3 separate regions of the Homo sapiens genome follow, and all the other regions are linked to region 3. The links come from fine-mapping of genetic effects on gene expression. A gene starts in region 3. Each other region holds a variant in brackets. All regions are shown on one strand. Distances are from middle to middle.

The links. PIP is the estimated chance that this variant, and not a neighbour inherited with it, causes the effect.
Region 1: its variant is fine-mapped to the expression of UROC1 in minor salivary gland (GTEx, PIP above 0.99).
Region 2: its variant is fine-mapped to the expression of UROC1 in naive CD8 T cells (Schmiedel 2018, PIP 0.95).

Annotation. Positions count from the first base shown.
Region 1 is chr3:126,488,845-126,491,597 of GRCh38, reverse strand. UROC1 (urocanate hydratase 1) reads left to right here. Exons shown (of 20, transcript NM_144639.3): 17 at 2,223-2,322. Among named protein-coding and RNA genes, the nearest start is that of ZXDC, 14 kb to the right of the region's middle. RefSeq lists an enhancer at 1,335-2,534. The variant G/C (reference allele first, on the strand shown) is at 1,533.
Region 2 is chr3:126,496,121-126,498,873 of GRCh38, reverse strand. It overlaps UROC1 (urocanate hydratase 1), which reads left to right. Exons shown (of 20, transcript NM_144639.3): 14 at 702-823. Among named protein-coding and RNA genes, the nearest start is that of UROC1, 20 kb to the left of the region's middle. RefSeq lists an enhancer at 495-1,372. The variant A/G (reference allele first, on the strand shown) is at 1,533.
Region 3 is chr3:126,516,311-126,519,063 of GRCh38, reverse strand. UROC1 (urocanate hydratase 1) reads left to right here and starts at 1,291. Exons shown (of 20, transcript NM_144639.3): 1 at 1,291-1,470. The coding sequence starts at 1,345.

The DNA.
Region 1 (2,753 bases), 27 kb after region 3:
TGAAGACTGCCCTGGCATGATTCTGGGGCTGGCACCGGCAGCAAAGGCAGTAGCCAGCCCTGCTAGGGCACAGCCAAATGCACCCACCCAGTGCTTCCTGGAAGCCCAGGTGTTCCCGGGGACTGCTAGGAAGCTCCAGGCGCACTCGCCCCGGGCTGCGGTCAGCTGGCCAGCAGAAAGGGGTCAGTAAGCATGTGTCCATTCACTGGACAGTGCTTGGCTGAGCATGGCCACTGTGCAGCGTGTCCTAACCACCAGGGACACAGCAGAGAACAAGACAGACCCGTGTAGTGTGGTGAAGGGTGACTGACGTAAAGCTGAAGGCACACATTGCGACAGGGTTTCAGAGGATGAGGAGCGGCGTGCAGGAAATGAACATGGCGAAGAGCGGTGGTCAGGACAGCCTCTCTGAGTTGCTAACGTTGAGCTGAGACCTGAATGGCCAGAAAGTGCCAGAATATCTGGGGGAAGGTGGTTTCATTGCACAGGTGAAGACGTGGGAACAGGCCTGGCCTGTTGAAGGTGGGAAAGGCAGACCTCTTCATTCAAGAGCACAGGGCATCCCAGGCTTTTGTCAGGATGCATCTTCTGGCACAGGGGCCTGTGAAATTTTGAGATCCCCTGGAGAGGTTGGGAAGATCACGCCCATCAACCAGCGCTACCTGAAAAGTTTCCAGGACCTGGTGATAGGAATAGGACTTCTTAGCTGAAACAGCTGGGCTGCTCCCCAGGTGCACTGCAAACTGCATACTGACCTGCGTGCTCCCTCTCCTGACTGAAAGGTGCAGAGCCAGGCTGACATGCTCCCTGTGCAGTGTCCGACGGCTCCCCCTACTCCTTCTCTTTAGTCAGGGTTCCTCCCAGTTCCTTCACTCTGTTTTTTAAATTGCCAGTTAGAACTCATTTTCTTTCCTCTTTTTTTTTTTTTGGAGAAAGACTCACTCCATAGCCCAGGCGTGGTCTCAGCTCACTGCAACCTCCACCCCCCAGATTAAAGCGATTCTCATGCCTCAGCTCCCCGACGAGCTGTGATTACAGGCGTGCACCACAACACCTGGCTAATTTAGGTATTTTTAGTGGAGACGGGTTTTGCCATGTTGGCCAGGCTGGTCTCGAACTCCTGACCTCAAGTGATCCCCTGCCTTGGCCTCCCGAAGTGTTACGATTACAAGAATGAGCCACTGTGCCCGGCCAGGACTCCTTTTCATAGCAGGCCTGCCCATGCACAGCATAAGGGAGTCAGCTGACCTGCCCTTAGCCATGGCCCTACCTGACTTCCAGGGCTGTACCACATCCATCTCGTGGGGGCAAAGCAGCAGCTGGCTGCCTCTCCTGGGTATCTGAGCAGCCGGAGATTCCTGGGGAACAAGGAGTGCTGCCGATGAGTGTATTAAAAAATCAAACTCAGCATGAATGCTTTCTCTGTGCGAAAAGTCTTTGTCCTCAGAGAGACTGGCAGCACGAAAAGGCTCTTAGCAATTACCTCATCCAGGAAACCAAGAGCTATTCCCAGACGGAAGTGACCTGCCCAA[G/C]GTCTCATGGTAGGTACTGCCAAATACTCCCCCAGTGAGGCCCTCCAACACCTCCAGGCCATCAGCCAGCCACGTCTCTATTGCACAGGTCAGGGGCCAGGCTGCCTGAGGCTTGAGCCCAGACTAAGTGGACACTCGGACTTAACAATTTTTCTGCTTTACAATGGTGTGAAGTGACACTTGTTTAGTACTCTCCTCGACATACAATGGGGTTGCGTCCAAATGAATACATCGTAAGTTAAAAATACTCTTAAGTCGTTTTTTACTTAGGGTACAGTGGGCTTATTAAGATGTAGCACCATCGTAAGACGAGGAGCGCCGGCATATAACACGTGTGGGGTTAAACCCCAGCTCACGACTCACTCGCTCTGTGATATAGGGGAAATTTCTTCTCCTCTCTGTGCCTCCGCTTTCTCATCTATGAAGTGGGCATGATAATGGTTGTGCCTATCTGAACAGGGTGGCTGTGAGTGCTCGGTGAGCTCACACATGTATTACACACGAGTGCTGCCGGGCACACGTGAATCTATTCCAGGCTACAGATGACATCAGAAATAGTTGTGAAGAGGGTCTATTTTCCAGGAGGAGAAATCCAGCGGGTTCTGGTGTGACCTGCCCCTTGTCCTCAGTCTTTACCAGGAAGCCATGGTGGACACTGTTGGCTGACAGCTTCTGTCCTTCCATGCACAGGCGCCGGTGGTCCTGAGCCGAGATCACCATGACGTGAGCGGCACCGACAGCCCCTTTAGGGAGACCTCCAACATTTACGACGGCTCTGCCTTCTGTGCAGGTGAGGAAGATGAGAATGTCTTAAACTTTCATCTTAGATTTGGATTTTATTAAAAATTGATGCATTTAGTCAGTCACAATGTTTCGAAAGATGTTCTGGCACCTGAGAGGCTCGGCATAGAGTGACCAACCCAGGACTGAGGGGGTCTGGGATGTGGGACTTCCAGTTGTAAAACCGGTAAGTGCCAGGCACACCGGGCCAGCTGGGTGCCCTGGACTTGGGTGACCTACAGGCTGTGGGCAGCCAGCTGTTTCCTTACCTTTCCAGATCCTAGAGCTGCATTTCTTGCCTTTTTTGGCTCCTGGTCTCTTCCCCATCTTCATAGCTGAGCACCAAGAGGAGGGGGATATTCTTAGGGTTCTCCCTGATCTTCTCTGTGGCACCCATTGGGATTTTTGGGGGAAGAGCCTGCAAGAGGGTGCAAACGCCTT
Region 2 (2,753 bases), 20 kb after region 3:
GCCTGGGCCAAGCTGAGAAGTCTGGGCTTTCTGCTGGGGGCAGGAGGGACCACATGACTTTTGGAAGATGTGCCAGTCCTCAGTGGGTGCCACATGGGACGAGAGAGAGATGGAGGTGAGAAAGGCAAATGCCACTTACTGTCAAGCTCACTGTGGGGTGCAGAGGTGGGAGGGGCTGAGCACTGTCAGCTGGCACTCTCCGGAGAGGGAGGGCTGCCCAGGAGGAGGCACCCCCTGGCCTAGCAAGTGCAGGAGCCCAGGGAGGGCCCAGGCCACGGCATCCTCCCCCCAGGACAGCCCTGTCCTGGAGCCTGGCTCCTGGGAAGATAAGCTCACCTAGGGCGAGTTCCCCAAGGCTACAGCCCCAGGTTGACTCTCCTCTCAATGTGACTGTCACTTTTAGGTGATGGATTTTCTTGTCATCTGTAACAGCAATTGGGGTCATTTCTGTTTGCCCAGGTCCCAGCTCCCCACTCCTGTAGCTAGAGATGGTACAGCCAGGAGGCAGGGATGGAGGGCTGGGGGCACTGGGACACAGAGAGGGGACAGGGAGGCCCCTGGAACTTTCTGTCCAATGACAGCTTAGGGGGTTCCACACCTGACTTCTGGATGCTGAGCCCTCCTCCCTGGCATGCTCACACCTGCACCCCCTCCCCCAACAAGCCAGCGGGCCCAGGGTGAGGAGGCATCTGTGCTTGCAGGGACATATTCTCCCAGGGATTTGGGCCTTTCCGCTGGGTGTGCACATCGGGGGACCCCCAGGACCTGGCGGTCACAGACGAACTGGCCACATCTGTGCTGGAGGAAGCCATTGCTGATGGAGGTGACGCCATTGGTGGGGATGCCCATGGGTGGGTGGCCCCCCCAAAGCTTCTGCCTCCATAGAGACAAGCTTCTATAGCAGGCCCACCTAGCTAATTCTGGGAGGGAACCTGGGCGCAGATGACTTTGTGAGTCTGGTGGGTGCTCAGCTGGCAACACAAAGGGACTTAAAGAAACTTGAGTGAGTTGCAAAGATCCTGGTCCCCAAGTGTCGTTCTCAGCCGTGGAGGCACAGGCCCCACCCACACCAAGCCTCTGCCCTCCAGAGCTGTCCTGGGCTCTGCCAGTGAGGACCTCTGGCTGCGAGTGACAGAAAGCCCCTCAAAGCGGCTGAAGCAGGACGGTCCAGGGCTAGGGTGGCCAGGCAGCAGTGGCCGGGGCCAGGCTTTCTGGGCAGCCCGCAGCACACCACAGTCCCTCTCAGACCCAGCCTCCCCCTCCACGTGGCCAGGGCAGTGCTGACAGCAGTGCTTCTAGTTCCTTCTTGCTGTCTTCCATGATGAAGCTGTCTCCACATGCTCCCGCCAGCCTTCCACGCCTGCCAGGTCCACAAGGGTCTCCTCTGCATCAGGGTCCCCCATGTTCATCCTGGGTTTTGCTGATGCTGAGTGTTGGTTCTGCCAGAGGGTTGTGTTTTTCCATGTCTACATGGCCTGCCTGGGTTTTAACCAACCTTTGTTCTCGTTGAGTGGGTCTGACGTTGTTGTTTC[A/G]TGGTTATTTTATGACACTTCCTCTGTTGTTGCAGTTCTTACCCCGGTCTCTCTGCAGCTTTCCTGCAGGTCGGGTGGCTTTTCTGTGTGGTTCACCAGCCTCTGCTGTGTGCTTCACATCTCTAGGGCCCTTACACCCTGCTGCTGGCCATGTTCGGTGGGCTGGGCAGGGGCCCAGGTTACACAGACTCAGAGTAGGAGAGCCAGGCAGAGGGGAGACGTGGTCACCTGTGGAGGAGGAGGCGGGCAGGGGCCCAGGCAGGAGGGCAGGGGAAGCAGGGGCCTTCTCCTGGGGGTCTGGTCAGATGTCTCCTGGGCTTCCCTGGTGTGAGAACAGCAGGCAGCCAGTGGGGAACGACCAGCCCTCCGGAAAGAAGCCCTGAGCTGCTGCACCCACGAAGACCCTGGAGTAAAGACTCCAGGCCTGGCTGGTTTCCAGGCGTGCTGACCCAGCTCCACATGCCCGCAGCACATGCCCTGCGGCATCTCCACCAGGCAGATACTCTAGTCGAAGGCTGTGAAGTCACAGGAGTGAGGGATTTCTATTACCTTCATTTTAATATAATTTGGTAAAAGTGTAAGCTTATTTAAAATTTTAATGATATTTATGTTAACCACTGGCTCCCACAATTTCTGGAAAATTACCAGTCTGCTTTCACGAGCTGGTCAGGCTGGCTCCTGTGCCCTCTCACATGCACACATACTCCGTGAGCTTGGCCAGGTAGCTCCTGCATAGGCCAAGTTTATTTTCACCTCAGGGCCTTTGCACTGACTGTTCCCTCTGCCTGGAAGGCTGTTCCCTCAGAGCTTCCTTGTCCGGTTCCTTCCCAGCCTTTAGACTCAGCTTGATGGCCACTTCCTCAGAAAGCCCCCGCATCCACCATCCTGGGGAGCCCTCAACACAGTCCTGTGTTCCTCACGGCCCACAGCGGTCTTTGTTCCTGGTGCCTTGCTCAGTGTTGGTGTATAGTAGGCACTGAATAGCTATTTGTGGAGGGACCGAGTGCATCAGGCAGTGCGCTGCACGGCTGTGCATTATTAATTCATGGGGCCACTGGCACTGCTGGTCCCCAAGTTCACAAAGGCAGGGGTGGGGTGGGGTGGGCTCCCTCACCTTGTGTCCTAGCTCAGTGGTGGGCTCGGGGCAGGGTCTGTGCTGAGCTGAGCAGCCTGCCTGAGGGCAGGTCTGTGCCCCTGGAGGGTCTCTGACGCCTGCTGTCC
Region 3 (2,753 bases):
TTCCAACAGCTTTAGGAGCTCTGTGTCAGGAACCAGGGTCAAAGATCAAACGTTAGAACAAAAGATTCTCCTAGAGTTTCCATCTACCAGGGCCTCAGGAGCTTTGTGGCAGGAACAGGGAAGAGATCAAAGCCTGTTTCTTATTCTATCACAGTCTCACATCACCCCCATTAAGGGCGCCCTCCCTGTGCTGCAAAAGGGCCAGCGTGGATGGGAGGGTGCTAGAGCCAGACCTCTGGGTCCTCAGGGCTCCAATCTCAGCTCCCCCCATGACTGGCTGTGTAACCCTGGGCAAGTCCCATCCCTCTCTCCACCTGTTTCTTCATCCTTAAAATGGGGGCAACGAACCCCTCAGGGCTGACCCACAGGATGCTCTCAGAGGAGCAAGCACTCAGAAGGCAGCTGGGCTTCCACGTGCGGGCCCTGCACTGGGGCTTGCCTAACGGCACTCCACCGCCTTGCAGCTGAGCTGTCCATCGCCACCCACTTGTGTAGACAGGACATGGCCAAAGGCCACAGGGCTGGTCAGGCTCGCACTGGGTACACCCAGGTGTGTTGCTTCCCCCGGACTGCTGGAATTCAGCTTCGGCCACTTCTTGGCTGTGTGAGGGAGACCCGGGCCTTGGTTTCTCCATCCATAGCATAGGGCTCATGAAGAGTGCTTTCTGGCAGAGTTGTTAACAGATTTGGGAATGAGGGTCATCCCTCAGGCAGGTCCTTCAAAAAGAGCTTTGGGAGGGGGTAGAGTGGTGTGCCCCCCAGCGGGAGCTGAAGAGAGCACACTTGCCACTGAGGGCCCCCACTGCACCTGTCACCCAGCCCTCCAGTGGGGAGCCAAGGAGGGCACACCTGCTGCTGGGTGCTCCCGCTCCACCTGTCACCCCACCCCCCAGCAGGAGGTAGCAGGAGGAGGGGCTCTACACTCTGTGTCCGGTTCAGTGTCACATGGCTTCCCATCTCCTCATCATCAAGATGCAGATCCCCACATCGAATGTTTGGTGTGGTGCACCAGAGGGCTGCCACAGCACACCCCAGCATTAGAGCCCCACCCACCCCCAAAGCTGTCCCGGACAGCACAGCCCTCCTGGAAGGGGAAGTGAGCCCAGCCCCCCTCCCCACTGTGAAGCCTGCCCTCCCGCAGAGCAATGTCCTCCCCAGGTCAGCGCTGCAAGTGCCCTACCTGAGGCCAGTGACCCTCCGACCTGCACATGGCTCCCTGCACAGGCCAGGCGCCCAATGAGAGGCTGGAGGAGGTGGCCCTGGGGCTAGAGGTCCCTGCCCTATCTGCCCAGTCTCTTCCTGGCCTCCCCACAGTGCTGGCCTCTGCCTCCATCTCAGTCACACATGTCTAGCCTCCAGGCGCTGTGCTCTGGCCTGCCCCTGCGGCCCCTCCCAGAGAACCGGGGACGCCAGGCTGGGGTGCCCCATGCCCCTGTCAGGACCCCCAGCCTCAGCCCTGTGGAGAAACAGGTAAGCAGTGGGCCCGTGCTCCCGAGGCCTTGGCCTCTAGGCATCCTCCAGGTGGTCCATAGTGAGCACCCAGGCTTCCTGCCCTCTTAGTGGGAGCTGCTCAGCCGCCCACCCTGGACTCCAGGGGCTCCAGCCTGTGCGGGTGCAATGCACAGTGGACTCTGTCTCTTGGATGCAGCCGCCCTTGGGTGCAGGATCGCCGTGCCTGTTTACAGATGAGGACCCTGAGGCTCAAGGTCAGCAGCCGGTCACTGGTGGCACTTTGGCCACCTCCAGTGGGAGGAGGCCTTGGGTGGGTGTGAAGTGTCCCACACCAAGCGCCGCGTCCACCCCAACACTCAGAACGTTTGCACACAGGTCAGCTCTTATTTTCATTTGCAAATGTCCCTCCCGCAAATCTCTGGAGAACGTGCGGCTGCATGGCTGAACCCTGTAGCTGGCAGGCAGTTGCCAGGGAAAGATGGGCTGAGGCCAGTATCCCCTCATCTAACAGCAAAGCAGTCCAGGGATGGTGCACGCTTGCCAGTGGTGCCCTGTCTGGGAACCTCCCTTTTGTCATTTGTCAGCTTGAGATGAAAATGGTGACACCAGGGGGTTGTGGAGAAGAGTAATGAAATAAAGTAGGTGACACGGTTATATAGACTTTCCTCCTACTTTTTACTGGAAACTACTCAAGATTTTCAGAAACAGTAGAGAAGTGGAAACTGCAAACAAGCATAAAGATTAAAAGAGGAATCCTACCTCCCCAGGTAAAGATGGCTGCCCTTTGCACCGGAGCCCACTGGACTTTTCTGGAGCCACCCACAGAGGCCTAACAGGACACAGTGGGGACAGTAGGGGTCACTCAGGGCAGAGCTGGCGCTGGGGAAGGGAGAAAGGGGAAGCAGGTTGGTGGGTGTGGGGGTGGAGGGGAGTTGGGGGGCTAGGAGGATGCTGGGGGTCCTTGTGGGAGTGGGGCACTGGGGGCAGGTGGAGCGGGTGCTGGAGGGAAAGGGAAATGGGGGAGGGGCCAGCAAGGTAGAGTAGGTAGTGGGCACTGGGGGGAGGGGGGAGGGTAGGTGGTGGGCACTGGGGGGTGGGAGGGTAGGTGGTGAGTTCTGGGGTGGGGGGATGGTAGGTGGTGGGTGCTGGGTGATGAGGGGGAGGGTAGGTGGTGGGTGCTGGGGTGATGAGGGTGAGGGTAGGTGGTGGGCGCTGGGGGTGGGAGGAGGCTAGTTGGTGGGTGCTGGGGGACGAGGGGGAAGGTAGGTGGTGGGTGCTGGGGTGACAAGGGGATGGGTAGG